Homo sapiens: one gene and its partners. The protein of the gene in region 2 interacts with the protein of the main gene of each other region in a pairwise test. Each region holds a gene or a part of one and is shown on either strand. Other genes may lie near its edges.

The links.
Region 1: the proteins of ARL6IP6 (region 2) and ARL6 interact in a two-hybrid assay, tested with the Homo sapiens proteins (one study listed by BioGRID).
Region 3: the proteins of ARL6IP6 (region 2) and RUSF1 interact in binary tests that used the Homo sapiens proteins (3 or more experiments, as listed by UniProt).
Region 4: the proteins of ARL6IP6 (region 2) and CLRN2 interact in binary tests that used the Homo sapiens proteins (3 or more experiments, as listed by UniProt).

The regions. Positions count from the first base shown.
Region 1 is NC_000003.12:97,781,735-97,788,761, reverse strand, and holds part of ARL6 (ADP-ribosylation factor-like protein 6), read right to left. Parts: intron 3,808-7,027; coding exon 3,713-3,807; intron 773-3,712; coding exon 643-772; intron 1-642. UniProt on the Homo sapiens protein: Involved in membrane protein trafficking at the base of the ciliary organelle. Mediates recruitment onto plasma membrane of the BBSome complex which would constitute a coat complex required for sorting of specific membrane proteins to the primary cilia.
Region 2 is NC_000002.12:152,728,609-152,735,635, reverse strand, and holds part of ARL6IP6 (ADP-ribosylation factor-like protein 6-interacting protein 6), read right to left. Parts: intron 3,106-7,027; exon of another isoform or gene 3,056-3,105; intron 643-3,055; coding exon 510-642; intron 1-509.
Region 3 is NC_000016.10:31,498,374-31,505,400, forward strand, and holds part of RUSF1 (RUS family member 1), read right to left. Parts: intron 2,359-7,027; coding exon 2,313-2,358; intron 1,153-2,312; coding exon 1,120-1,152; intron 1,035-1,119; coding exon 929-1,034; intron 1-928.
Region 4 is NC_000004.12:17,510,423-17,518,171, reverse strand, and holds the start of CLRN2 (clarin-2), read right to left. Parts: upstream 3,008-7,749; 5' UTR 2,906-3,007; coding exon 2,653-2,905; intron 1-2,652. Other genes in the region: QDPR (dihydropteridine reductase), read left to right, coding at 6,118-6,222. UniProt on the Homo sapiens protein: Plays a key role to hearing function. Required for normal organization and maintenance of the stereocilia bundle and for mechano-electrical transduction.

The DNA of each region.
Region 1 (7,027 bases), on a different chromosome or scaffold from region 2:
ATGCATAACAATTTCAACATTAATTACTTAAGAGTTCAACCTTATTAGGATGTCTAAGTAAACTTAAAATTTCCATTTCCATTTATTCATTTTAACAAATATGTATTGTGTACCTATTACATACCAGGCACTATGACTATTGTAGGGATTATTAAAGTGAAGAAAACTGACAAAACCCCAGCTGTCAGGGAGCTAACACACCTGTATAGGCAGACAGACTATAAACAAAAAAAAAAGCAGTCACATGGTAATAGTGACTCTAGCAAGCCAGGAAAATTATTTTGGAAAATGATTCAAAGGAGGGGGATACAAGTGCACATGCTCTTAGATGGGACTGTGCTTGGCTGACTCCATGTGCAGAAGGAAATCAGTGTAGCTGAAGTCAGTAAGTAAGTGAGCTTTTAAGTTATTCCATTATAAGAGTTGTTTATATTTTCCTATCCCCCCAAAAATTTGAAAAAGGTTTTTAACAGTAATATATTTGTAAAAACCTACAATGCCACAATTCTACAAAACAAAATCCTTAGCTTATATGCCACCATGTTTGATCACTTATTTTTAAAAAATGAGATCAGAAGAAACAACTCTGAAGCTTGTATATTTTTCAGAAAGCTACAGTGAAAAGTAAATATAAAACTTTACCAAATATGCCAGGGTTTATCTTTGATGTTCTCTAAACACAGCAACTGAGACACTTTTACAGATGTCACTGCATCTCTAAGATCCATTTTATTTGCAAAGAATAAGATTGGAATTCGACGGTGTTTAATATCTAAAAGAGAAAATAAGATTATCATCACACTTCCAGCTTTTTAGGTCATTTTGCAGCAAATCTTTAGTACTGAAACCCATGAAATTTTTTTTCAATTATCTTTTTTCATATCACACACACAGAAACATTTAAAGACACATACTGTCACACTGTTAGGCATGTATTTGAGCAGTAACAAAATTTTAAAAATACTTCCTAGGACCATCTGCCCTCTGGTTAGGAGCTTTAACCAAAGATGGGTGAGGTGGGACTGGAGCTCAATAAGCATTACAGAGAAGTACCTACAAAAAAGCATTAAATATTTTGTTTCCTTTTTAATGGTGAACAGAAAGGAGGCAAACTTCAAGTAGAAGTAGAAGGAAAAGAAACTGGGAACTTATTTAAGTTTTTTGTCACAATATCATAAGTAACAAGCTAGATTTTTAAAAGATATTTTTACCTTGTCATGATTTTGGAAACATTTTTCATTTTTTTGAATAGACAATACATTTAAATAGTTCAAAATTCAGAAGATACAAAATGGCATACAGTAAAAGAATCTCCTTCCTAACTTTGTCCTAGGACAATGGTCTCTGTAGAAAAGGCAACCCATAACATCAGTGTCTTGGCATCTTCATAGAAATATTTTATGTATTTGCAAACATAATTATTATATATTATTTTCATATAGCAGGCCAACCTCATTACTTTATACCTTTATCTTTTCATTTATTTACATATCTTGGATCTGATCCCATATCAGTACATATAGAGCAGCTTCTTCATTATTTTAACCGTTCTGGAATATTTCTTCTTTTAGTACTATGTACTATTATTTAACCAGAACCCAACTGAGATACCTGTTACCAATCTTTACAACTATGAACAATCCTGTAATGAATAAATGTGTATATAGGTAATTTTGTACACCGGCCAGTATGTCCTTAGGATAAATTTAAGATGTGGAATTGTTGGGTCAAAGGACATAAATTTCTCTTTTGATAGACAGTGATTACCAAACTGCTTTCTCTTAAAAATTATATCAATTTACACTTCAACAACCACGTATAAGAATGAGTGTTTCCACTCCCCTAGCCAAAAGACTGCTATGAAACTTCTTGATATTTTCCATATCATAGGTAATAGAAAGGCCAAGAATCTTTCCATATATTCAAAAGATGTTTAAATTTATGTTTTTGTTGACTTACCTGATATGTCCTTTCCCCATTTTCTATTAAGCTTTTATATTCTTACTGATTTTTAGAAACACAAGTAGTATAGAAATATCCCTGTAGCTATGATATGAGTTGCAAATATTTTCCCTTGCCTGTCATTGTCTTTATCTGTTCACAGTACATTTTGCTATTCAAAGATTTTTTATGGCCATCAATTTTTTTAAAAAGTTCATATACACTTCAGCTGAGAAATCCCTCCCTTGGGAATCTATCCCATAAAATAAAGGAAGTAGTACATTAAGATCCATAGACAAGGCTTCAGTTGAGGAAATCAAAATCCCCATTGTTTGAAGTATATTTTATAGGAACTATTTCATTTTACTGCTCAACACTGAAACACTTTTTAGAGAAAAACTGGAAAGATTAATATGAAAGGAAGACATAATCAAAAATGCATTATCAATCTAGATACAAGACTGCTAAGTTTTTTGTTTTTTTTTTTGAGACAGAGTCTCCTCCGTTGCCCTCAGTGGTGCTATCTCAGTTCACTGCAACCTCCACCTTCCAGGTTCAGGCAATTCTCCTGCTTCAGCCTCCTGAGCATATGGGATTACAAGTGCACGTGCCTGGCTAATTTCTGTATTTTTAGTAGAGATGGGGTTTCACCATGTTGGCCAGGCTGGTCTCGAACTCCTGACCTCAAGTGATCCACCCGCCTGTAATCCCTCCCAAAGTGCTGGGATTACAGGCCTGAGCCACCACGCCCAGCCAAGACTGCTAAGTTTTTAACATTAAAAAGTCAAATAAAATGTACAGGGCGGATAATTTTTTTTCAAAAATTTCAGTAAGCTTGAGGTCATCTGTTAAAAATACCAAAGATATTGTGGTTAAGCAGTAACATTTATTAGAAAGCCCCACACTATTTCTATTTCATTTCTAACAAATCCACAGTTCTCTTAAACCACCATCCTTTTCTGAAAGTCCTAGCACAAGCACTATTTAAATTTTTTTGGCATGAGGAAGGCTAGAAATGCAGAGTTCCACAATACTTACTGGAGCACTGTTTGTAGTGGGGGCTTGGGCGGGAGGAAAGTATACATCAACAGGTGAATGATTAAATAAACTGTGGTACATTCATAGTAAACCATATTAGGCATCATTAAAAAGAATAACTACATAATTATATATAATTTGATTTGGAAGGATATCCATCATTAAGTGTTAACTGAGAATAGAAACATGCAGAAGAGTGTAAAGAATATGATTCCATTTTGGTAAATAACAATGATAGTCCCCACAGTCCTCAACCCTACAGATATTTTTGGGAGATATATATATATATATATATGAATAAATATGTAAGAAATGCTGTAATTAAACACACACAAACTCAGATACACATAGAGAAATGCATGAAAATATGGTAACAAATAATTTTAATGGGTGTTGAAATACACAGATCTTTATTTTATTTTTCCATCTGATTTTTTTTTTTTTTTTGCTTTGGTACAATTTATGTAATCAGAAAAAAGGGAATTTTTATTTTTGAGGAAATAAATGTTAGACACCCCAAAAACAATGCAAAATGCTTTACATTTACATTGCATGCAAAATTTACAAAATATGGTGATGTACATAAAATATAAATTTTGTATAACATATATGTTTTAAATTCAAAAATTTTAAATGAAAGATAATTACATAGTATAAGCAATACCCAAAGAACAAAACATTACACATAAATGAACCCCAAAGAACAGATACAGACTGAAAGACACACACATACCTGGATGATTCAGAAGAGTATCGAGTTCTTCTTTGGCCACAACCATTCTTAATCTATCACTACTATCAATGACAAAAATAATAGCTTGGCCTTCTCTGTGTAATGTAAAGAAAAAGAAAAATTAAAGCTTTACTTATAAATTTTTCCATGTTTATTATCCATGGGCATTTCCTAACCTAAGTATTATCTCCTTATGTCCTATGTCCATATATCATTAGAATTTTTGGTGTTGTTTCTTATTAGTTTATATGACTGATAAATATATTAATCATTAGTCATATTTCATGTAAAATACCTTTTCATTTGGATAATAAAGTAAATTTAATGACTTGCTACTTCATAATTTTAAAAAATGAGTAATTTTTTCATTAAAATATCAGAATATGAGAAAATGAGTTAAAATACCATAACCCTATTACACCGATGCAATAATTATTAATATTTTGGTATAAAGCTACACTTTGTGTATATTACATATGAATAAACTATATATGTATTTAAAATGGAATCCTGTATTACACCTTGCCTTTGCAATACATATGTAAATTTCCTTGATTTTTTTTTTTTTTACTACTATGGTTTTACTACTACTTTTATAAATTATTTTTACCATAAACCATAGTGAGAAATACATTTTGTATTAAGATACAGTAGACACATAGGTATATATAGATGTATTTTAAGTGAAAGTCTTCTGAAAAAATACTTACAAATAGCTTTTATTTTATTCTATTTGATTTTTTAAAAGCTGATAGCCAGTGATTGAACTAGTTAAGGATTCACCCATGGATCACATAGGCACTTGAAAAATTATTGATTATTCCTCTGCACTATCTTCTTTTAATGGTTCTAAACTATTGCACTGCATGGATGTGTCATCAAATACTGTATCAAACATTTGTTGCTGGACTTTTAGGTTATTTCCAATTTTCATCATTATGAAAAACTTTAAGGCAAATATCCTCCTACATACCTTTCTTTTAAAAAAGTTCTGATGCTTTAAGATTTATTAGAAATGTTAGGAGTAACATTTCTAAGACTACATACATAATTTAAAGTTTTAGAAAAACATTTCCAAACTGTCCTCCAGAAATGCCATATCAATTTACATGACTCAGTACTTTTCTCACTCCTTTGCCAGCACTGGCTATTATCATTATCATCATTCTTTTCAATAATTGCCATTCTAACAGCATATTATCTTGATCTAGTTCATTAATTGCCAATGAGGTTCAATATCTTTTCATATATTTATTGGACATCTGTACTTTTTTTTGCGAATCACTTAATCATAAATTAAGTATTTAAACTGCAATGTGATTAATAATCAAATGATATACAAAATAAAACTTTTTATATACCATTTTCTCCTATCATTAAAAAAGGATAATGCTGATTATCACAGACATACATTACCAGTACATATAGAAACCAGAACAATCAAAGTACCTATCAAGATCTATAAAAACGTTCAATCACTTTGAGCCAGTGATTTTATTTCTGAAATTCATTCTAAGGAATCACGAACTGGGGCTAAGATTTATACAAGATTTTGACTGAAGGACTGTTTACAATTTTCAAAAACAGAATAGCCTTCATGTCCTAGAGTAGAGAAATGGTTAAAGAAATTTTGGCAAAGCTGTGTGAAAAAATATTAGGCAGCTGTTAGTTATATTCATTGCATGTTTTTCCTGATTTACCCTTACCACATGTTAACTGAAAAAAGCAAGATACAAAATTATACATGGTACATAATTTAGATGGTTCCTTTTTCCTTAGTTATATAAAGTATATGTTATATATTTCAAAAGGAGGAGAAAGATACCAAAAAGATTGACAATGGTGAATTTATGAATAGTGAGATTTATGGGAAACATGTTTTCAATATTCTCTTCTATATTTTCCAAATTTAAAAAATGTGTACTCCTTATATTTTTGCATGCTATTACCTTTTTATATTGTAAAAATAGTATGTAAAAATTATATAATATTTAACATTATGGCATCATATAGATGAGAAAGTAAATGTCTCTCTTCACCAAACAGGATGTGAAAAAAAAAAGAAAAGAAAAATAAAAGAAAGTAAACTTCCCTTATAATCCTACTATTCCAAAAATAAATGCTACTAATGGTTTGGTGCATAATCCACTAAGAACTTTCTTCTTTCTATACATAGTAAGTACATATTTATAGCAAATGTAAATTTCCTTGATTTTTTTTTTTTACTACTATGGTTATATATATAGCAAAGATAAATATTTATAGTAACATTTTTACATAATTGATATAAAAATGTTATAAATAATGCTAACATACAACCTTCTATGTATATTTTTTTGCCCATAAGCCCTGGTCATAGAATACTTTTCTAAAAGTAAAAATGCTTGCTGGAGTTTATAAACATTTTTCATTTTAACAGATATCAATAAATTACCCTGAAAAAGATATTACATTCTCACAGGAGTGGCTCACTTTGACAAGAGCATACTTTATTAATCTTTGTAACCTTTTTCAGTCTAATAGATCAAAATGTACTTGTTTTGTTTCACAGTTAGAAAAGTACGAAAATAGGGAAAGTAAATTTACTTTTATTGTTGATTTTTCAATAGTAATCATATTCTCCATTCAATCTACAATGTAACCACTCTATTCTAGAATTCATAAATTTCATCCAAAAACAGTACAAAGAAAAAAGGAGTTAAAATCAAATAAAAACAAAGTTTACTTTCCTACTATTTTCTCTCTATATATATTTTTGTAATTAAAATTAAAGTATTTTTAAAGTAGCTAAATACATTTTTAAAAGGAATTATTTATCAACTAATTGGAGGAGGAATTTAAAAAATCCTGTACTGAAAACTCAGGTTTCCTAAACACACAAACAAATAAGAAACACATAAAATGCATCTCCCCAAGGAATTTAATGCAGAATACCACAAACATGCCACTTTTCCTTTTCCAAACTAACCCTCGAATCTGAAGCACTCTCTTTTCCCTCTCTCTCAGAAGTCTTCTGGACCTACGATTTAAATAGGCCTTCAATTTATTGAAGGACTCATTGAAAAAAAAATTTGAATAAATTTCCTCTGGTTCATATCCCAAATATATACCATTTAATGTTTGGTCTCACATTATTAGGAAAGAGTTAATCTAAATCTAAATCTTATCTGGTAAATATCACATACCATTTCAAGGCAGCAGTTCATAATGACAAAAGAGAGTTTAGTTAAGAGATAGTGTTTTTAAGTTTCAGACTCTAAAAGTGAAATACATTGCTCTTAAATGAAGTCCTAACAATATTAGAAGCTAATGAAT
Region 2 (7,027 bases):
TATAGACCAAAGAAATTTAATACTGTTCCACTACGAAAAGCATCCAATCTGGTCTAGACATATAAATTGGGTACCATAAATGTTTGCTAATTATTACACAAAGTTAAAATCCTAAGGAAAAGTCCAATCCAATTATTATGTTCTTGTAAGTCTGACCATGTGTGAACCTAGTAAAACTTTCAAATTGTTGGTATTAATTTTGCCTTTATAAACTGTTTTAAATCAAATTCTATTCCAAAAGGACAAATAGCCATCAAAGGTTCTTACTTGTGAAATAAGCCCCTGAATTTCAGTTTTTAGAAAAAAAAGCATTATCTAGATATAGAATTTTAAATATTATTCTCATGTATCTAAAGGCTGAGCCTACAAGCTGAAAAGTCCTGTTATTAGTGCTTTATAAAGACTGAAACCTCAACATACCTCACGATCAGCCTCTTGCTTCTGAGTATTTTAGTATTTTCAAGAGTTGAAATGCATTTAAAAAAGAAACAGGAAACAGGAATACTTACTTGAACCTGGCAGGTGAAAGAGGAGTAGGAGGAAACATTCCTGGTTCAAAAGAATCAAAGTAAGTCACTGTCCAAGAAAAGCTGCAACAGGAGAATCCAGCAGTTAGGGATATTATAAGTAGAGTCCAGAATCCTTAACAGGAAAAGAGAGGGGAAAAAGTACATTATTAACACCAAAACAATTTAAATTAAACCAGTACTCTCATGTTCAGATCATGTATATTTCTCATCTTCTAAATTATATGGATCTGATATTTTAAGAGATTTGAACTTATTGCAAGCTAACTTATGTAGAAATAAGTGTACATTACTAAAGCACAACTAGAAGTCATATCATTGAATATTTTAATTAAATGATAATACGTGGGAAAAAAGGGTAAATTCAACAAGAACATAACATCTTCAGTTTTATAAAATTCAACTACAGAAAACATGGTCAAAACATTTCACAAGACTCTTAAGATGTCTTGAGGCCAGACAAGGTGGCTCATGCCTGCAATCACAGTGTTTTGGGAGACTGAGGTGGGAGGATGGTTTGGGGCCAGGAGTTTGAGGTTGCAGTGTGCCTAGATTGCACCACTGCACTCCAGCCTGGGAGACAGAGTGAAACCCCGCTTCGAAAAAGAAAAAAAGTTCATCAGATTTTTCATTTAATTTCATAAATCATACCTTGCTATCTTTATTATTTAGTACTAAGTGATTCCTTTCATTCCACGCCATGCACTTTTGAAACTTGCCTCAATTTGGGGGTATCCCCTCTTTACAGTTTTCTTATGAACATTATAAACCTATTCTGATTCTTTAACCTTGCTCAGTATATGAACAAAAGTTGACTCCTGATTTACAAATGTGTGGGACCTTAGATTTTATTCGCACTGAGTTTGGAACTGTATTTTCTCACAGAAGTCAAGTCAAAAGAACAATATTATAATGGACTTAAGGAAAAACGGTTGAGAAGAATAGGAGGCATAAAGGGAAAAGAAAGGAGTAAGCTAATTTAAAGGTTTTTGGATACTATTCATAACCCATTAATAATAATAAAAGGATAATGACTTCTTCTTGTGGTTATAGGAAGACAGGAAATACTGATATTTAAGTGGTCAACTCCCTTTAGTAAGAAGTACAGCTTTATTTTGATGTCAAGTTTTCAAAAATTTTATAAATTAACTCACTTATTCACCCACTCAATCTATATTGAGGGGCTACTATGTGTTGGTTATTGTGCTAGGTAATGGGGATATAGGGATGAGCAAAATAAAAAAGATTGCTGTCTTCATGAAGTAATTCTAGTGGGATAGGAAGATAATAAAACATGTAAGTAAATTAACAAGATAACTATATATTGTGATAACTATTTTGAATAAATAAGATGTTACCACTTTAAGGAGGTAACATCAGAATTCAGATGGAAAATGTAAGCATATTTTTCTTGGAAGAATAATAGTTAATTCTAAAATTGACATGAAATAATAAGCAAAAATAGAGACTAGTCCAACCAAATATTGAAATAGTATAGGAACTGAATACCTAAAACGGTGTGTACTGATATACAAATAGACGACAGGGCCGGGCGTGGTGGCTCATGCCAGTAATCCCAGCACTTTGGGAGGCTGAAGCAAGAGGATTACTTGAGGCCAAGAGTTTGAGACCAATCTGGCCAACACGGTGAAACCACCTCTACTAAAAATACAAAAATTAGCTGGGCATGGTGGTGCATGACTGTAATCCCAGCTACTTGGGAGACTGAGGCAGGAGAATCACTTGAATCCAGAGGCATAGGTTACAGTGAGCAAAGACAGCACCACTGCACTCCAGCCTGGGTGACAGAGTGAGACTCTTTCTCAAAAACAAACAAACAAACAAACAACAGAACGAAGCAGAACACAAGATTCGGAAGAAGGCCCAAATAGATTAATAAAAAATGTTACTAATTCAATGGGGTGACCACTTACAAAAAGGAAAAGAAGTTAGATCCATACCAGATACCCTATACCAGACTAAATTCTAAAACGTACCAAATAATCTAAATATAAAGTTGTAGAAGCAATCATTGGAAAAACTGGAAAAGTCATTTATAGCCTTGGAGAGATAAAGACCTTTCTAACCATGATACAAAAATTCAAGACTCATATAAGACACAGAATTTCAACTATATACAGTCAGCCCTTCCTATCCACAAGTTCCGTATCTGGAATTCAACCAACCTTGGATGAAAAATATTTGGAAAAAAAAAAAGTAACAATACAACAATAAAAATAATGCCAATCAAAACCAATACAGTATAACAACTATTTACATAACATTTACATTATATTAGGTATTAGAGAGAGTAAATGGGAGGATGTGCATAGGTCATATACAAATACTATCCAATTTCATATAAAGGACTTGAGGATCCAGATTTTGGTATCCAGAGGGGGTCCTGGAACCAATTCCTCATGGATACTGAGGGACAACTGTATATAGGTAAACACACATATTACTATATATGCATAGCAAAATAAAATGTCAAATTGAATGACAAAAAATTTTTAAATAAAACATACCTTTGCAACTTACAGCATAAGGGAAAATTTCCTGCTAATACAGATAATTCCTAGAAGCCAATAAAAAAAAAGACCAGCAATCCAAAATCCAAATATAAAGTTAAATGCAATTGCAGAATAAAAACTACAAATGTTAAAACATGAACAGATGCTCAATTCAATACCATTAATAATCAGAGAAATTAGGTATCATTTTTTCATCAACTGACAAAAATCAAAAAGTTGGATAACATTCTCTGATGCTGAGGCTGTGAATAAACAGAAACTCTTCATGCATGGCTGTTTTGGAGAGTAAATTGTTTTAATTTCTATGGAGAGCAGTTTGGCAGTATCTGTTAAAATGATGCACATATATGTTCTTTACTCCAGTAACTTTATATGTCTTTAGGACAATATATCTCTGTATATTATAATATACAATTTTATATATATATACCTTTGTATATTATACAAACCTGTATAAAATGATGTATATACAAGATTGTTCTCTGTAGCTTTGTTCATAATAACATAGATTGAAAACAACCTAAATTATCAGTAATGAAGGTAAAGGATTGGTTAATTAAGTACATCCATACAATAGAATACTATGCAGCTATAAAAATGAATGAGGAAGCTCTTTAGGTACTGATATGGAAAGATCCTGAAAATATACTGGTGAGCTGAAAAACTGAAAGTTCAGAACAGCTCTATGCATTTGTATAAATAAGGGGAAAATATGTATTATACACATACATATATACATATGTTGTATATATGAAGAAATGTATATTGTACTTAGATATTTTAAAAAATTTCTGGAAGGATGTAAGAATTTAACATTGGTTCTCTGAGGAGGGAGGAAAGAGTGGTTGGGAGAAAAGAGTAAGCCTTTTCAGTCTATACTCTTTTACACTTTTTGAATTTTGACCCATATGACTATTCTACCTATTCAAAATAGAACTAAGTAAATTTGTAAAAAATAAAAAAATTCAGTCAGGTAGTACTTTTTGAACAGAGGAGCAGCAAGGAGGTCGTATCAGAATCTTTGTGGACTCATTTTTAAACTGCGTCTTTAAAACAGGTTTCTGAGAGTGTGTTCCATGCCTCAAGAATACAGGAAGAGTTGAGAACCCTAGCAGATGACTTACGAATTATCAAATTTCCTGACTATACAAATTATCCACCAGTCTTATTTTAGCAAGAAGCAGGTAAAAAGTACATGCAATGGACTGTTTGTAAATCTTGTGAAGCTCAGTAACAGACTGAAAAAACTGTTAAAGTACAGACTCAGAAGAATTATTAATAGAAAGTGTGGTAAATTATATCTCCTGATAGTTCCCTCCTCCCATCTCCCACCTGTTAAAGAGCTAATGGGCTCTGTGTTCATTTCTCCAGAAGAGGGATGTGGCAAAGCAGAAAGAAGAAATAGCCTGTTTTTCTACTTTACATTGCACAATATTTACAGAAACCAGTGTACAGATATAATCAGGGATAGGAGTGTGGATAAACACAATATGTCTTGAATGCACAGCAAAGACAATGAGTTGATTGGAGTACAGATAAAATGTTTGTGTGGAACAGGGAGAGAGTGAGGGGCTTATCGACAAGTGAGAAAGATTTCCTTAGTTTAAATAAAGTAGGTTGTATGCATGTTTGCACTTATGTGTGTAAATGGGGAAAGGGAGTAGTGCTACTGGGGCTTCCTGACAAAAGCATCTAGAAAAGCCCATGCAAAACCACACAGGGAGTATAGCTGTGTACAGTATCTTGGTAGGTAAGTACAGAGCCAAGCCTGCAGATGCCTCTGCCCTAAGCCTGGCATAGAAACACCACATGGTCATGTGGCTGGAAGTTGCCACATCTGAAACACCATCCTGACCACAATAAAAGATACTTCAATACTCACTATAGCAAATGTCTTGAGGATTAGTCTGCACCTTCACCCCAATATCCTGGCACAGTATCCACCTCTAGCACCTCAACCCAACCTGGAATTGGGTGAACAGAACCTTAGAATAACCTTCCTACCAATCTATCAGGATAGAGGGTAAAAAAAAAAAATTATAAGATTTAGTCTACAACTACAACTTAGGGGTTGCTATACTGCCAAATAGCTGTTATTTGCTATTATTTAGATGACTATGTCTAAAGAGGGGAGAAAATAATTGACAAGTTTACTCAAAGTTTAACATACTTCTCCAGAACAAAGATGATAGTTAAGAAAAATAAAGTGTTTGGGGACTGCTATAGAACGATGAAACTTCTAGATAAGTGAGGAAAGACACAAAGTAACATAAAAATAATCAAATGTGAGGCTTTCTAAAGCCTGTTGAACTTTTTCACTTGAGTGCTTTAATAGGGTACCTGTCAAATTTAATACAAGAATATTCTTGAGTTTTTCCAAAATTACTATTCCACAATCTAAGTACTTACTTCGCATTGAGCATTTTTATTATTTTATGTTCATTTTAAACTAATCAGAAGCTGCATCATGGGTAAGTCAGGTCACAATGATAGGGGTAAAAAAAGTACATTGCAATATTGTGGTCTAGAAGTGTTTATGATTCGGGAAATTACCTAATTCATTTGCAAATAAGCAGAAAAGCCACAGAAAATGGTAACTCCCCAACAACTAAATTTTTTACAAGTCAGTACCTGCAGAATCCTCATGCTAAAATTTTGATGTTTTATAAGCCCTTAGAAAGAATTAACAACTTTAAAAAGAATATAAAAATGAAAGCATATTAAATGAAATTCTTCCTTCCTCAGTTTGCCAATTTCATTCCTAAAAGTGATCAGCTAAGAGTCTGGTGTGCATCTTTCCAAAAATTATATACATATCTAGGTAATACAGGTACATATATAAAGCTAGTTATATATAAAACGTATATATATCTTCTCAGCTTATTTTCCACAAGTGAGATTCTCACCAGAAAAATGGTTCTGCATTTTGCTTTTTTCACATATTCTGGAGACCTTTCCTATCAGCACCCACAGCCACAGTTCTGTTGTGTGTGTGTTTTTTTTTAATTCTAGCTTTTCTCTATTACAAACAATGCTCCAAGGAACATTCTTGTATTTAAGGGTACAGTTGTACAAGGACATAGATGTTACAAATTTCCAGAATAACTGCTACCAAAGGTTGCAGGCTTTTAAATAAATACACACATCCTTCGTTCTTCTCTACAGCTCAATATTCATCAGTTGATGAAATGATGTGTGTGCATATATGTGTGTACACACACACACACACACACACACACAGACAAAGTCTGGCTCTGCCACCCAGGCAACCTCCACCTCCCAGGTTCAAGCAATTCTCTGGCACAGCCTCCCAAGTAGCTGGGATTACAGGCGCCTGCCACCACACCCAGCTAATTCTTGTATTTTTAGTAGACACAGGGTTTCACCATCTTGACTAGGCTGGTCTTGAACTCCTGACTTCATGTTCCACCCGCCTCAGCCTCCCAAAGTTCTGGGATTACAGGCGTGAGCAACTGTGCCCAGCCAAAGTGATGTATATTAATTTTTTTTTTTTTTTTTGAGAAGGAATCTTGCTGTGTTGCCAGGCTGAGTGCAGTGGCGCAATCTCGGCTCACTGCAACCTCCGCCTCCCAGGTTCAAGCAGTTCTCCTGCCTCAGCCTCCAGAGTAGCTGGACTACAGGTGTGCACCACCACATTCAGCTAATTTCTGTACTTTTAGTAGAGACGAGGTTTCACCATGTTGGCCAGGCTGGTCTTGATCTCTTGACCTCATGATCCGCCTGCCTGGGGCTCTCAAAGTTCTGGGATTTCAGTCAGACGCCACCACGTCTGGCCAATGAAATGATGTATACTAATCTTTTCCATCAATTGAAACCTCTTAAGACTGTTTTCATCCAAAGCAAAAACAGGGATGGGTAGGAATTTCCTATCCCAATCCCTTTGCTGGAATATTATAGACACCTATCTAAGGGTATATTTGTTTTGGCTTATTTTTCAAAATAAGC
Region 3 (7,027 bases), on a different chromosome or scaffold from region 2:
CTCGTAGCATTTAGGCTTGCAACCAAGGAAGCTAAATGTCCTCTACCACAAGGAACCGTTGCACCCCAAATGCTAGTACTTATGGAGAAACACGGCCCTAACGTGATTTTAAGTTGACACATGGGCCTTGGAATGGGTTTTCCATTTTCTTGAGTTTCTCCTCTGGGCCAGGGACTTAACTCTGACAGGATATGCTCTTTACTGAACCATGCCAGGCCTCAGTGTCCTCATTTGGGTGAGATCAACCTGCAAGGGTTGTGCAGGCAACAGCTTGGCGTGGAGGAAGAGTGTGCTTGAGCCCCGCGTGTCCCCCAGCTCACTGTGCGGTCTGTGCTCCATCTCCACCTCGCCTCCAGACCTTAAGCTGTGCTGTTTCTTTTGCCCGGAACACCCGCCCTGCACCTTAAACTCCATCTTCAGGACCCAGGCTCAGGGGAGCTCTTCCTACACTCCCTGACCAGGCTGGAATCCCCGCCTCAGCCTCTTGCAGGCCCCAACATTTCTCATTTAGAATACCTGTACCTATAATTCCACAAACACTGGTGCAATTATGTGTGGTTTCCTTTCAAAGACGGGGGCCCACATTCTGTGCCAAATATGCAGTAGGCACTCAATAAATACTGTACTGAAAGAACCAAAGGGAAGTCAAGGAAGCTGGTCCCAAAATGTCAACATTGGACAACCCCTTCTAGTTCTCAGCTCGGAGCTCCCTCCCCAGTCCTGTGGCTCTAGACATTGCCTTACACTTTCTGGGGCACTAGATGCTGTCTGGCTGGAGGAGGGTCAGAAAGGATGGTTGGGTTCGAGTAGAAACATCTGAACTTTCTTATTCTTCTTGAAGTGGCAGGTAAACTCACAGAGCCCAGGTAAACTCACACACTACCAAGGCAGGTGTTTTAGGCAGATGGGTGCCCCCACAGGCAGCTACCTTGGCTAGGTTGCTGGTGGAGACGGTCATGGTGAAACAGATTGGGTATACAGGAGCCATAATCTCAAGGAACATGGCTACGTCATTGAGGATGTCCGCAAAAAGCCTGGGGAGGGATCAGAGGTTAGAGGTCAGAGGTAGGAGACTTTCATAATGGAAGACTCCCCTCCCCCGTCCCCGCCCCTCCTCACCTCCACTGCTTGGCATTGCAGTCCAGTTTGCTCCTGTTGGGGAGGAGAGGTTGTTGTAATTTGGACTTAAGGAGAAACACATCCTATGGGCAGTGTGGGGAGTCTTGGACCACAGTAAAGTCTGAAGAGCTCAGGAAAACCCACACCCCCAGACAGACATCTGTCCCCACAGCCGGTCACTGCTACCTAAAATGCCACCATTAGCTGGGAGAACCTTCAGTGACTGACTGATCACCTAGTGTCTCCCGCTTATGAACTCATGATTTACCAAGGAAAAACCCTGATTGTCTTGTGGCTGCTCCCCAGCCTCTGTCTGTCCTTGGAGGGAGGCTCTTCCTGAGTTCCTCTGCCTCTCTCCGTTCTTCTTCTTGCTTTAGAGTGAGGGTACCCAGTGAGCATGTTTTGGACTAGTAAACATCACATTGAGTGTGTAACCCTGCATGTTACAGACAACTAGCCCTCACAGGGGATATGATTTCCCTGGATCACACGCAGAGTTGGGGAAAAGGCTAAGAGAGCCGGGCTCCGACATCCAGGCCTAGGGTACTTCTGTTACACAACACCGTGGACGGCTACCTCACCTGCCCTTTTCGTCAGACAGTGACTCCCTGCCCTGTGCACAAACACTTGGAAACAACTTCTCTAGGGTCCCAGTGGCAGGAGATACTGCAGCCCCAGCCCAGCTCAGGATTTGCAGCATTAGGCCCGAGTCTCAGTATGAGATCTCCTGGAGGGAATGGGAATATTCTTGGGAGAGGTATCAGACACACATAACGAGATCCTGAACACATGGCCTGGTTGAGGGTTCTGCCCAGTGAACTGCCCAATACCATGGAAAGCACAGGCTTCAGGTTCAAATCCCATCTCGCTAGTTATAAGCTGTGTGGTTTGGGCAGGTAACTTCCCTCATGCAGGTATATTTCACATTTATGAAATGTACACATCCAATCCCATCCTACAGAGTTGCTGTAAGGATTAGAGACAACATACAGAGGCTCAGGGGGCACAGTTACAGCTGTTAATGGTAGCTAGTGTTTACTGAGCCATTATGTACGATGCCACGGGCATTAAGCACTTTGCATAGATCATCTCATGGAACCCTTACAGCCACAATTAATGGCAATACTATTACTATCATTACTACCACTACTGGGAAGAGTTGCCAGAGTTGCTGGCCGGGAAGACAAACTCACCCTTTCCACCAGGCAAAGACGATGCGGCCCAGCATGCCAGTTGAATCTGGGGGAAAGAAGGCACAGGTAAGGAGCAAGGAAGAGGTGTGGGAGCTGTGGGGCCTGGCAGACCCTGGCACTGAACTGGCCAATTCACTGAGTCACTGCCTTTGGGAACTCGGTCTGGTACTAGAAGTTGTGGATAGTCATAGCTACATAATGGGGTCAGAAGTGCCTACAAATAGCAGTTCCTCAATATGTCCCCTAGGAGACATGGACAAGAAATGTTCTTTGCAGAATTGTTCATAACAGCAAAAAACCTGGGAATAATGCAAATGTTGACTGACAGAATACATAAATTCTAGTATATTCACCCAGAGGCATTCATTCATAGATGAATACTATTAAACTCTTGCATGAAAATAACTCATGAAGACCACATACAGCACAGTTTGCAAAGCTCTAAAATTAAAACTAAACAATATAGCACTTAGGAATATTTACCTATTTGGTAAAACTATTCAAAAAAGCAGGAAATCTTAAGTGGAAATTCAAAGGTTATTGCTAACCTGTTCTAGCTCTTAGGCTGGGCAGTTGGCTCACAGATGGCTATTATGGGATAAATAAATAAAAGGATTTAGGCTGGGTATGGTGGCTCAGGCCTATAATCCCAGCACTTTGGGATTACAGGGGGTTTGGGCCCAGGGACTGCTTGAGGCCAGGAGTTCAAGACCAGCCTGGGCAACACAGCAAGACCCCATCTCTACAAAAAGTAGGAAAGAAATTAGCCAGGCATGGTGGCATGCCTGTAGTCCCAGCTACTTGGGAGGCTGAGGCGGAAGGATGGCTTGAACTCAGGATCAATGCTGCAGTGAGCTATGATCATGTCACTGCACTCCAGCCTGGATGACAGAGCAAGACCCAGTCTCAGGAAAAAAAAAAAAAAAAAGATTTGAACTGCAGCTGGGGTTGCACGGCAGAGGGACAGGCCTCCTTAGGCTGGGCAGAGTAAGAGAAGTCTCTGGAATCAGTGGGACCTTCGTTTGCACAACAAATGCTTTCTGGCTACCTAACTCTCTCTGCCAGGTACTTCATGACCACAGTGACCAAGATGATCCCAGGGTCAAAATCCAGCCAAAGAGCAGATAACAATCAGTATAGAAAACACTGATTTAGACCAGGAATCACTAAACTGTTTCTACTCCCTGGTTTTGGAAATAAAGTATTACTGGAATGCAGCCATGCCTATTTGTTTACAGATTGTCTATAGCTGTTTTTGCAAGACAATGACAGAACTGAGTTGCTGCAACTAAGATTATAAAGCCTGCAAAGCATTAAGATCTGGCCCTTTACAGAAAAAGTTTGTCAATCTGGACCATCCATTATACAGAGAGCAGCACCCATTAAGCCTGGCAGAAATATTTTAGAACGAGACACCTGGGAGGGACTCATACAGTGGACATGGGAGAGGACAGATACCATGGGGAGAGGATTTGGACTTGTCTGAGCTTGAGGGCACTGACCCTGAGGTGGGGATGTAGGAGAAAGGACACTACGTTATGGGAATGAGGGCTGGGAGCTTCCCACGAAACATAAATGCAATGACACGGGCCAGCCCTCCCATTCTCCACTGAGAGCAGATGCATTCTCCCCTTTCCAGAGCCTTCTTGGGCACTGAGTCATGCTTGCCCACCCTGGACTTGAGGGAAATCAGTAAGCGCTCCAGTGCACACCTGAAATACCTGTGCTTTTTCATCTTCACAATGATCCTGAGACTTTGGGAGGGATCATTCCCCTTCACTAAGGCTCCCATTAAATCGGTGAATAAAATTGAGGTATTTTACAAGAAAATATGGATTTCCAGCTTCTCTGGAAGAACCTGAAGATATGGCCACACTGGGGCTGCCCTCTCTCACGGCCAGCATCAGCTGGGGCTACCTCACTGAAGGAAAGCATGGGTCCAAGCTACTGCCATCTGGCCTGCTTTGTTTCTCCATTTCTGTCCTGACTCTGGAAGTAACACCCAACAAGGTGGATTTACAGGCCTCCCATCCCTCACTTTAACCTCTTCCCTTCAAGTACATTATATTCTCGGCAAAATCATCATTGTGCCAGCCACCACACCTGGCTAACTTTTGTATTTTTAGTAGAGATGGGGTTTCACCATGTTGGCCAGGCCAGTATCAAACTCCTGACCTCAGGTGATCCACCCGCCTCGGCCTTCCGAAGTGTTGGGATTATAGGCGTGAGCCACTGTGCCCAGCTCAGACTCTATTTTTCTTCCCTTTAGCTACACACTTGTATCCACTCAGGTGTATGTCCTCCTTGGGCCACCTGACAGAAAGGGAGCCTATTCTACCTTTCCATGGATCATCAGAGGCATTTACAGGACAAATGATATATATACTCCCTAGCATCTGAGTCACTACTGTCCACTAGAATAGAAAACTCCCACTTGCTTTTTTTTCCTCTTCATTTACAACTGGCCAAGCTGTAAGATCTAGAAACATCTGAGTCCTAATAAGGAATCAGCTGACCACAAATTGTACTTGGCTCCACTTGACATTCTTAGCTGGCAAAAGAGTGTGGTAGTTAAGAGTAGAACACAGGAATAAGTCTGCCTAGGTCAAAATCATGGCCCTAAGTGACCTTGGACAAGTTACTTAAACACACTTTTGTCTCTGTTTTTCCATCTAAAAAATGAATAATGGCAGCTAACTAATATGGCTGCTGCAGAGATCAAGACACATATTACATGTAACCATACAAAATGTGTGGCTTAAGGTAGGTTGCCAAAATATTAGCAACAAGTTTTATTACTATTGCTACTCATGACAACTGGCATCACGTTCCACTGAGACAGGTAACTGAAAATGATCACATCAAAAAATCCCAAGTAAGTTTCTCAGATGAAGCTCTGCACAGAAATTTCCCATGTTTGATGAAAATGAGCTTGTAAAATCCTAATTGAGAGCTTCTTTTACTATCAATAACAAGCCTTTATTTATTTATTTTTTTAGATGGAGTTTCACTCGTTGCCCAGGCTGGAGTGCAATGGCGCAATCTCGGCTCACCACAACCTCCGCCTACTAGGTTCAAGTGATTCTCCTACCTCAGCCTCCTGTGTAGCTGGGATTACAGGTGCACACAACCATGCCTGGCTAATTTTGTATTATTAGTAGAGAGGGGGTTTCTCCATGTTGGTCAGGCTGGTCTCGAACTCCTGACCTCAGGTTATCCGCCTGCCTCAGCCTCCCAAAGTGCTGGGATCATAGGCGTGAGCCACCGCACCTGGCCAATAACAAGCCTTTTAAGTAGATTTTTCATCCTTTTTCTTTGAGACAGGGTCTCAGTCTGTCATCCAGGCTGGACTACAGGTGCCTGCCACCACGCCTGGCCAATTTTTGAGTTTTTTGTTAGAGACGGGGTTAAACCATATTGGCCAGGGTGGTGTCCAACTCCTGACCCCAAGTGATCCACCTGCCTCTGCCTCCCAATGTGCTGGGATTATAGGCGTGAGCCACGGCACCTGGCCTTTCTTTTTTTTTTTCATATCTTAAAGTGATCTTGATTTTTCTTAATAACTTGTCTGAGCTAAAGGTTTAGCGTTCCTTTTTTGTTTCAGACAGGATACTGCTCTGCTGCCCAGGCTGGAGTGCAGTGGCACTATCTCGGTTCAGTGCAACCTCCACTTCCTGGGTTCAAGTGATTTTCCTGCCGCTGCTTCCTGAGTAGCTGGGATTCCAGGCACGTGCCACCATGCCTGGCTAATCTTTGTATTTTTAGTACAGATGGCGTTTTACCATGTTGGCTAGGCTGGTCTTGAGCATCTGACCTCAACTGATCTGCCGACCTTGGCCCCCCATCCCAAAGTGCTGGGATTACAGGGATGAGCCACCATGCCCGGCCAAGGTTAAGCATTCCTAATCCAAAAACCTAAAATCTGAAATGCTCCAAAACCTGCAGCTTTTGGGAGTGCAGACACGATGCCACCAGTAGAAACAGCCGATGGTGAAATAGCACAAACTGTTCTTGTAGGGAAAAGAAAGAGATCAGACTGTTACTGTGTCTATGTAGAAGAGGAGGACATAAGAAACTCCATTTTGATCTGTACTAAGAAAATTGTTTTGCCTTGAGATGCTGTTAATCTGTAACTTTAGCGCCAACCCTATGCTCACAGAAATGTGCTGTATGGAATCAAGGTTTAAGAGATCTAGGGCGGTGCAGGATGTGTCTTGTTAACAATATGTTTACAGGCAGTATGCTTCATAAAAGTCATTGCCATTCTCCATTCTCGATTAACCAGGGGCACAATGCACTGTGGAAAGCCACAGGGACCTCTGCCCAAGAAAGCCTGGATACTGTCCAAGGCTTCCCCCTACTGAGACAGCCTGAGATGTGGCCTCGTGGGAAGGAAAAGACCTGACTGTTCCCCAGCCCGACACCTGTAAAGGGTCTGTGCTGAGGAGGATTAGGAGAGATATGCTGGCGGCAATGCTGCTCTGCTACTCTGCTACACTGAGATGTCTGGGTGGAGAGAAGCATAAGTCTGGCCTACGTGCACATCCGGGCACAGTACCTTCCCTTGAACTTATTTGTGACAGATTCCTTTGCTCGCATGTTTTCCTGCTGACCTTCTCCCCACTATCACCCTGTTCTCCTGCCGCATTCCCCTTGCCGAGATAGTGAAAATAGTAATCAATACTGAGGGAATTCAGAGACCAGTGCTGGTGCTG
Region 4 (7,749 bases), on a different chromosome or scaffold from region 2:
GTTTGTGAACGAGACCCAATAAACCTCCCCATCCCAGAGTTTGCAAAGCATTTTCACTTACGTCCCCATCTACACTGATCTGCGACTGTGGGGATTATTTTTTTTTTTTTCTACAGATGGATAGTGAATGGCAGAAAGAGACCCCAGGAGAAACAGACTCCTGGTTGTGGGAGGCTCTGATATACCCCGTAGCTGCCTCGAGGTTACACTGTGCTAGAATTAAAAGCTGTAAATCTAAAGGAGACTAGACTGGCACTATCAGTGTCCCTGAGCTGTACTGGGGTAAAGCCAGCCAAGCACAGGAGGAACCTGGCCCCAGGCTCCTCGTGAATGCTTTGAAAGAGAATCACATCCAAGGTACTGCGAATGGATGTTTACAGACCCTCCTCTGAGACAACCCCAGGGCAGCAGGAAACAAAACCTTCTCAAATACGCTCCTACTCAGGGACAAGAATAAAATGTCCTTTATGCTTCTCACAGGGTTCTGATGCTTTCCAGACCAGACCACGTTAGATGAACCCAGGGGAATGTTTCCCATTGGTGTCCTTCTAAGAAGGAAGAAGGAGGAAGGCAAGAAGTACTTACTGAGTTCCTCCAAGGCTCAAACAAAATATGCATTTGTTTGCAGCTTCCTACTCGAAGCAGTTTACATTTCTGTGAGCTGGGAATGGCAGGGGTCTGGTCATTAGGTTAATGCTGGCATGTGACTGCTGTTTAATCTTCTCACCCCATTCAAGTTTCAACGATTTACCTGTTGGGGTTCAGAAACCAACACCCCTAAAATATGAAGCTTTGTGAAGAAGTCTCAAGGTCTCTCTGGCCTCCCCTCTCCCTCGTGTCTCTCCATTCTTTGTCTGTCTCATAAGCACAGGATGAGGTTGTTCTCTGACATTCCCTTACCTGCCTACATCCAGACCTACCAAAGAAAAAGACCTCTGGTCCCTTCCCTGAGTGTTCATTAATTGTACCCATATCACAGGAAGAAAGACTAAAGTCTGTTAACACAGCTGGACAGACTTTTGTCACAAACCAATGTCTGCTCTGTGGGCTCAACAGACTTTGTCCCAGCTCACTGTATGTTCTTTAAGCCCATTGAATTTCCCTAAAAATAATTTACTAGTCCCCTAAAATCATCCACACTTCCCCATCTCTCTTTCCCCTAAGATGAAGAGGATACAACCACCTGTACCCCATTGAGATAGCGGACAATCACTCTGTGATTTTTCCCCTATGCATGCTAATAAATGTGTAAGCCATTTTCCCTATTAATCTGCCTTTTGTCAGTAGATTGTTTAGAGAACCTTCAGAGTGCAAAGGGGAAGTTTTCTTGACCCCTAAAGTCCCGAAGACATCCTTTATAGCAAAGCATCTAGTTCAGAATCGAGTAGTCCATGTAGTTGTCATGGTTAGCTTTTAGCATTTCTTTTTTTTATTTGTTTATGTGTGTGTGTTTTCAAGTTTTATGTTATAATTTTGATGGAGCTATTTGTTCAATATCCAGGGTCTAATCTAATTGCTAGGTAAATATAAATATGCCCAGACATATTGATCTTGAATATACATAACAAATGTAAATTTTTGTGTGTTTAAATGATGACAATTTGTATTATATTTGTCAACGGTTCCAGCTTTTTGTCCTTATAAATTTAATACGACATTTACCTTGGCCAGATTTCTATAAACTACTACAATACTGAAATATAGAAATCAAGGAATGAATACAATTCTGTATCACCCTACATTGGCATGGTATTGATTAATTACGGTTTTGTGCAGACACTTTTCACCAGTGATCTCATCGATTCAAAAGGCTTGCAGAATATTGCCTGTTTTGTTTTTTCCTTTCCAGAAGCCCGTTCCTAAGTCCAGCTTGGATTCCTGTTTGTGCAGACTGCTCTGCTTACATCCTGGGCAGCTCTGATGCTACACTGAATGCCAGCCAAAGTCGGTGCCCGCTCACGTTCACAGAGAACAGGCAAGTGCCTTGCTTGAGGTCTCCCCACCAGTAAACTTTCCAGTAGGGGTTTCAGCCAGGGTAGTCTGATTCCAGAACCCAAGCACAGTGCCCCTTTGCATTTTCTCAGACTATGAAGCTTTTACAAAAGTAGATGTGGAAAGGGTCATCATGCTTCCCAAAGGTTCAGTTCTGCAGGCAGCCTCCACCCACTTGTTGTGGTCATGTGGCATGGGTCTGGAGTCCGGCTCTACTGTTTCCTGGCTGGGTGACCTCAGGTAAGTTATGTAACCTCTCCAAGCCTCAGTGTACTCCTCTGGAAAATGGGAACATTAACAATTCCTTCTGTATAACTTTGTTGTAAGGCTTTAAGGAGACAAGTGGCGTGAGGTGCTTACAATGTCTGACACGTGTAAACTCTCAATATTTTAATAGTCATAATTAATAGAGGTAAACTGCAAAAATGCACAAATCCTTATTTCTAATGTTTCTATACATCTCTACAGAAAAAGAAAAGGAAGCAAGGAAGGAAGGAAAGATCTTTTTGATGTGGATCCAGAACCCTTGGCTCACTGTGGACTTTGACATTATGCCTGACGTTGAGGCAGCAGCCAAATTCCACAATGAGACATAAGCACTCTTACACATTAACAAAAATGAGTGCCTAGAATCAGCTTTCATGCTCCCAATATACTCACTCGTGAATTGGGATTGGCGGCCCCCAAGCCCACACTGCCGCACTTTACACCCTCGGAAGAGCCCGTAGTAAATGTCCCCAATGAACTTGACCAGCTCTCTGTCTGTGGCGTTGACCAGATCCACTCCAGTCTGACAAAGGATTTTCCCACTCAGCCAGTGGGGCACTACCAGGGCAACGATGATCAGGATGAAGGAGGAGAAGCTGAGTAAAGACGCCAGCCCATACCACGCCTTTTTGAACCATCCAGGCATGCTAGTGGGTGCAGGTCATCCCCAAGGTCTCCGAGCAGCAGCGAGGGTCATTGACATCTTTCAGATACTCGGCAATGCTCTGCTCCAAGGTCAGCTCTTCCAAACACTCTGTTTCAAGGTTGTAGGTCCATCCTCTCGTCCTCCTTCAGCGCAAGCTTGCACAGTCCATGCTTCCTACAACCACATCCAGAAGCCTCTACAGAGACAATCTTCACCTGACTATGTAGCGGAGTGTGTTACTGAAGGAAGTAACCTTATATCTCCTCCTAGACTAATGTTTCAGCAGACTGTTTAACTGTTCCTCGTTTCAAGTATTTAAATAGCCCTGGTGTGGACCTCGTAATGATAAAGGAGTTAGTAATAAGCAAAATCAGGTAGCTCTGAAGATTAAGAGACGCAAACCAATCTCAAAAAATGCATGTGTTAGAAGGAAAACAAAAACAGAATGATTAGCACTTGAATATTGCCAACAATGCGCAGTATCAAATGTCGATCTCGCTGATGCATGGGTGCCCTGGCATTTCTTTCTCTGAAATGTCACTGCTGTCAGAATCTTTAGGACTGTTATTAATACCATCAAATGACCCCGGTTCTTGGGGCTTTAATATTGAAATGTGTAAATAGGGCCTTATGAATTTCTCACTGTGTGAATCTGCTGGGGGTAAACTGTGACTAGAATTACTTTGTGGCTGTTGGGGTAGCCTGGAATCCAACACTTAACATTGCTCTCACCCGTCCCTCCTTCTACGTTATCTGAAATGGGAGAGAAAAGTGTTTTTCTAGTGTATTAGCAAATAGTAGCCACACTGCTGGGGTATTCATCTCTTCTAATAGTGGAAGATCTAGGCTTTCCTTTTAATCTGTAGATACTAGGAATGAAATATTCTTTCCTTTCTATCTTATACTGTGGACTTTGACATTTTGACTTTTACCTTATTCCTGAATATCAACTTAACATCATGTGAGACTGGCAACAGTCACTCTATCCATATCTCTGGGGAGCAAAGTTGGGCAAAAGTGGAGCAGTAAAATTTCTTAGTTGGTCACAGAAGCCTGAAGGGGGGTTCAGGAAGTTGCACTGTTAACCAATAGGGGTCCCAGGAATCTCACTTGGAGAGTGTCAAGGAAGCAGAGGGACACATTAATGGAAATGTCAGTTTCCTTCCTCGCAACTGGGGCTCACTTCAGTGGCCACTCCACAATGAAAATAAAAATGAGAATTTCTGAGCCTGGGCAATGTAGTGAGACCTTATCTCTACAAAAAATAAAAAAAAAAAATAGTTGGGCCTGATGGCGTGTATTTGTAGTCCCAGCTACTGGAGGCTGAGGCTGGAAGACTGCTCCAGCCCAGGAGCTCAAGGCTGTAGTGAGCTATGATCATGCCACTCTGAGTAACAGAGTGAGATCCTGTCTCTTACTATATATACAGATGAGTGGCACTTTACCATGTACAAAATGCAAAATGCTTTGACCATATGCTTGCTCACCTCTGATGCTCCAGCAACCCTTTAAGGTAAACAGGAGATGCACGATTTCAGCCATTTCTCTCATGAAAAACTGGATGTCAGTGCTGGGGCTGAAATTCAGGTCTTTGAATTACAACAGCTCATCTTCATCCCAGTGACTTTGAAACAGCAAATGTTTTTCTGGTAAAAAATAACAGAATACATATAAAAGGCTCAGAAGACTGCTTGGCACATTAAGTGATCAATAATGTTAGTTCACGTTCTTATTTTAACATTAAGCATGCTTTGACAAGTCAGGACTTGCGTAAATATCATTGAGTCATATTTCTGCCGTCAGTGAGGGACCTGTGTCAACTTTTGGTGTTTTGAGGGTTAAGCAATTGTTTTCAGAAAAACTCTAAGGGAAACACTTGATTCCCAACAAGCCTTTGTCTTGCTGAACAAAGGTGTGGTTAAGTGGAACTCTAGCTATTGAAGACCTGTGTTCAAATTCCCACTCTTCCAGACAAGTGTCTGTGACTCTCATGCCTCAGCTTTCTAATCTGCATAGGATTATCGTGTGGAGTAAAGTGAAATAGCACAGGCAGATCACTTAGCGCAGTGCCTTGGATATAAGGAGCACTAAATAGATGGTGCTCTCCTCTCCATCCAGCCTCCTAGCAGTTCTATTTCTGATAATGAAGCTTCTGACAACAAAATGTGCTGCTGGCTGCATCCTCTTCTCTAGTGACATATTTCTGCATGCTTTACCTGGCACAAGTTTACTGAACAAACATCTGTGTCTGCTGTGTACAAGGTTATATGTGGATGGGAAGTGACACAAAGATGTATGTAATACAGGGTTCTGCTATCAAGAAGGTTATGAGAGTGTTAGAGCTCTGGTTCTCTATCAGTGATGAATTTGCCCCTAGGAGACAACTGTTAAATCTGGAGATATTTTTGATTCTTATGAGTGAGGGGTAGGGGTTTGCTATTGATTTCTAGTATATGCAGGCCAGGGATGCTGTAAATATCCTACAGTACCCAGGGCAGCACCTGTCACAAATAATTATCTGGCCCAAAATGTCAGTAGTGCTGTAGATGAGAGGCTCTGTGTTAAAGATACAGGCCATGGGCAGAAATAACTAATATACAAGGGAGAAAATGCCAGGATCTGTGTCTGGCGATGGGTGGCATATAGTAAAAGGGCCATTTGGATTAATGGGTATAAATTTACGGTTAGATAGAAGAAATAAGACCTAGTGTGGTTTGTCTCGTCTCGGCGGTGGACTTTCAGCTCCTTGAGCGGAGCGACCTCTTCTGTTTTTTTGGCAGGTGGGAATACTTAAATCTCTATTTTGATGCACAATTAAAAATAAAAAATTGCCAAAACAGTGGTCGAAAATTGTACTATACTATATTTTACATGCTTACACTTCACAAATTAATGCTCGTAAAACACCCGCTCTCCACCCTCCTCGCCCTTAGCCCGGCTCGCTGCACGCCCCGAGGCCCAGCACTTGCTGGCGGGTGGGAGGAGGGGCTTCGCCGATGTCCCCGTCCCAGGGGCAGGGCCTGGCCGAAGTTACAGTCCCTCCGGGTGGCGGGGCGCCCCGAGCGTGGCAGCGCGCTAGGCGGCAGCAGCGGGCGCGGAGCGGGGCGCGGCCGCCGCGCGTTCCCTCTTGGCGGGGTTGGCCGGCCGGGGCGGGGCGCGGCGCTCCGGCTCGAGGCATTCGGAGCTGCGGGAGCCGGGCTGGCAGGAGCAGGATGGCGGCGGCGGCGGCTGCAGGCGAGGCGCGCCGGGTGCTGGTGTACGGCGGCAGGGGCGCTCTGGGTTCTCGATGCGTGCAGGCTTTTCGGGCCCGCAACTGGGTAATGCTGCGGGCTGGGGCTGCTGGGTCTCCGCGGGGGTGGCCGGGGGCTTTCGTGTGGAACCCGGCGGGGGGCAGTCTAGAGGAAGGTGGGGGCCCCTGTGCACCCCCTGACTCGTGTTGCTTGCACGTGCGCGCACAGGTCTACGCGTCTATTCCTGTTTCCGAGTGCGTGCGCACGCCAGTCCCAGGGCGCTGGGCCTTTGCTGTGCAAGGAGGTGCTCCGTGGGCCTCCGCCAGACCCAAAAAGTCCGGCGTGACTCGGGAGAGAATTCCAAAGGGGAGGAACGGGAGCAGGGGTGAGAGGACGGAGAGAGAGTGTAGAAGGAAGGCTCTAGAATGAGACAGCCCAGTCCCGGTTACTAGTCATGAGACCGCGTATTGATTACCTAACGCCGTAGGACCTCGGTTTCCCCATTTGTACAACGGAGATTCTGACAGTGAGAGTTGGGACGATTAGATGAGATAATTGGTGTCGTTGCACATAAATTACCTGACGCCTGGTAAAAACTGTTTAAATGCTGTCTATTAATGTTACTATTACTACCCACCCCTGTTCTTTTAGCCCCATTGGATCTGACAGTTTGAAGGCTCAGCACGGAAAAACGCTGACGGCTTCTTTGCTCTGCAAAGACTATTTCAACTACTTTGCATAGTCAGGTGTCAATTTCCAGGAGGCGGCAAGTCGGAGCAGAGCTGATACATGGCCAAAGACCCTTGACCTCAGCCGCTCAGCAGGCCTCAGCAATTTCCCGGTGGAGACACTGCCAGCGGCAGCGTTCTGGGAGCTTAGTTAGCAGCAGCAGCACAGCAGCCTGGGCAAGAGTTCCCCTGGGACCAGAAAAAGGCTTTCAGGATTTTCTTTAAAAAAAAACTATCTAATTTTTATAGATGAAGGGGGCAAAAGTACAGTTTAGTTACATGGATATGTTGTGTAGTGGTGAAGTCTGGGCTTTTAGTGTAACCATCACCCAAATAGTGTACATTTACCAAGGTTTTCTTGTTGCTCAGAATCTGGTACAGGAATATGCTTCTGAAGAATTCAGTCACACCACTCCCTTCCTGCCACCCATCTGCTCAGTGCTTGGGGACACTGATGAGGGCGCTTTCCCAGGTCTTCAGAGATGCATGGTGGTGACAGAGGCAGCACTTCTGCCAAGGGCCAGGCACTGTGTTCCCAGTACCAGAGTTCCCATAGACTCTTAATGCCCCCAATATCTTTAAGGCAGTAGATCCTGTTAGCGTCATGTGTTAGAGGGTGAAGGCTGTGCTTTCTCCTGGTGGTGGCACTTTGGTTTACCTTGGTCTTGGCAGAATCTGGAGAGCTGATTTACCTCTGGCTCTTGGTCTTTCCCCTCCGAGCTTCTTCCTGCCATCTTAGGGAGGGCTAGGATGATGGAGACTTTTCATTGTTTCAGTATCCCCCATGGGATAACAAGTTAATTAATAATATAACAAATGTTGATGAATAGATGCTGTGTTTACAGCTTAAGGTAGAGATAATTATCTCTGGGGACTTCAGACCAAG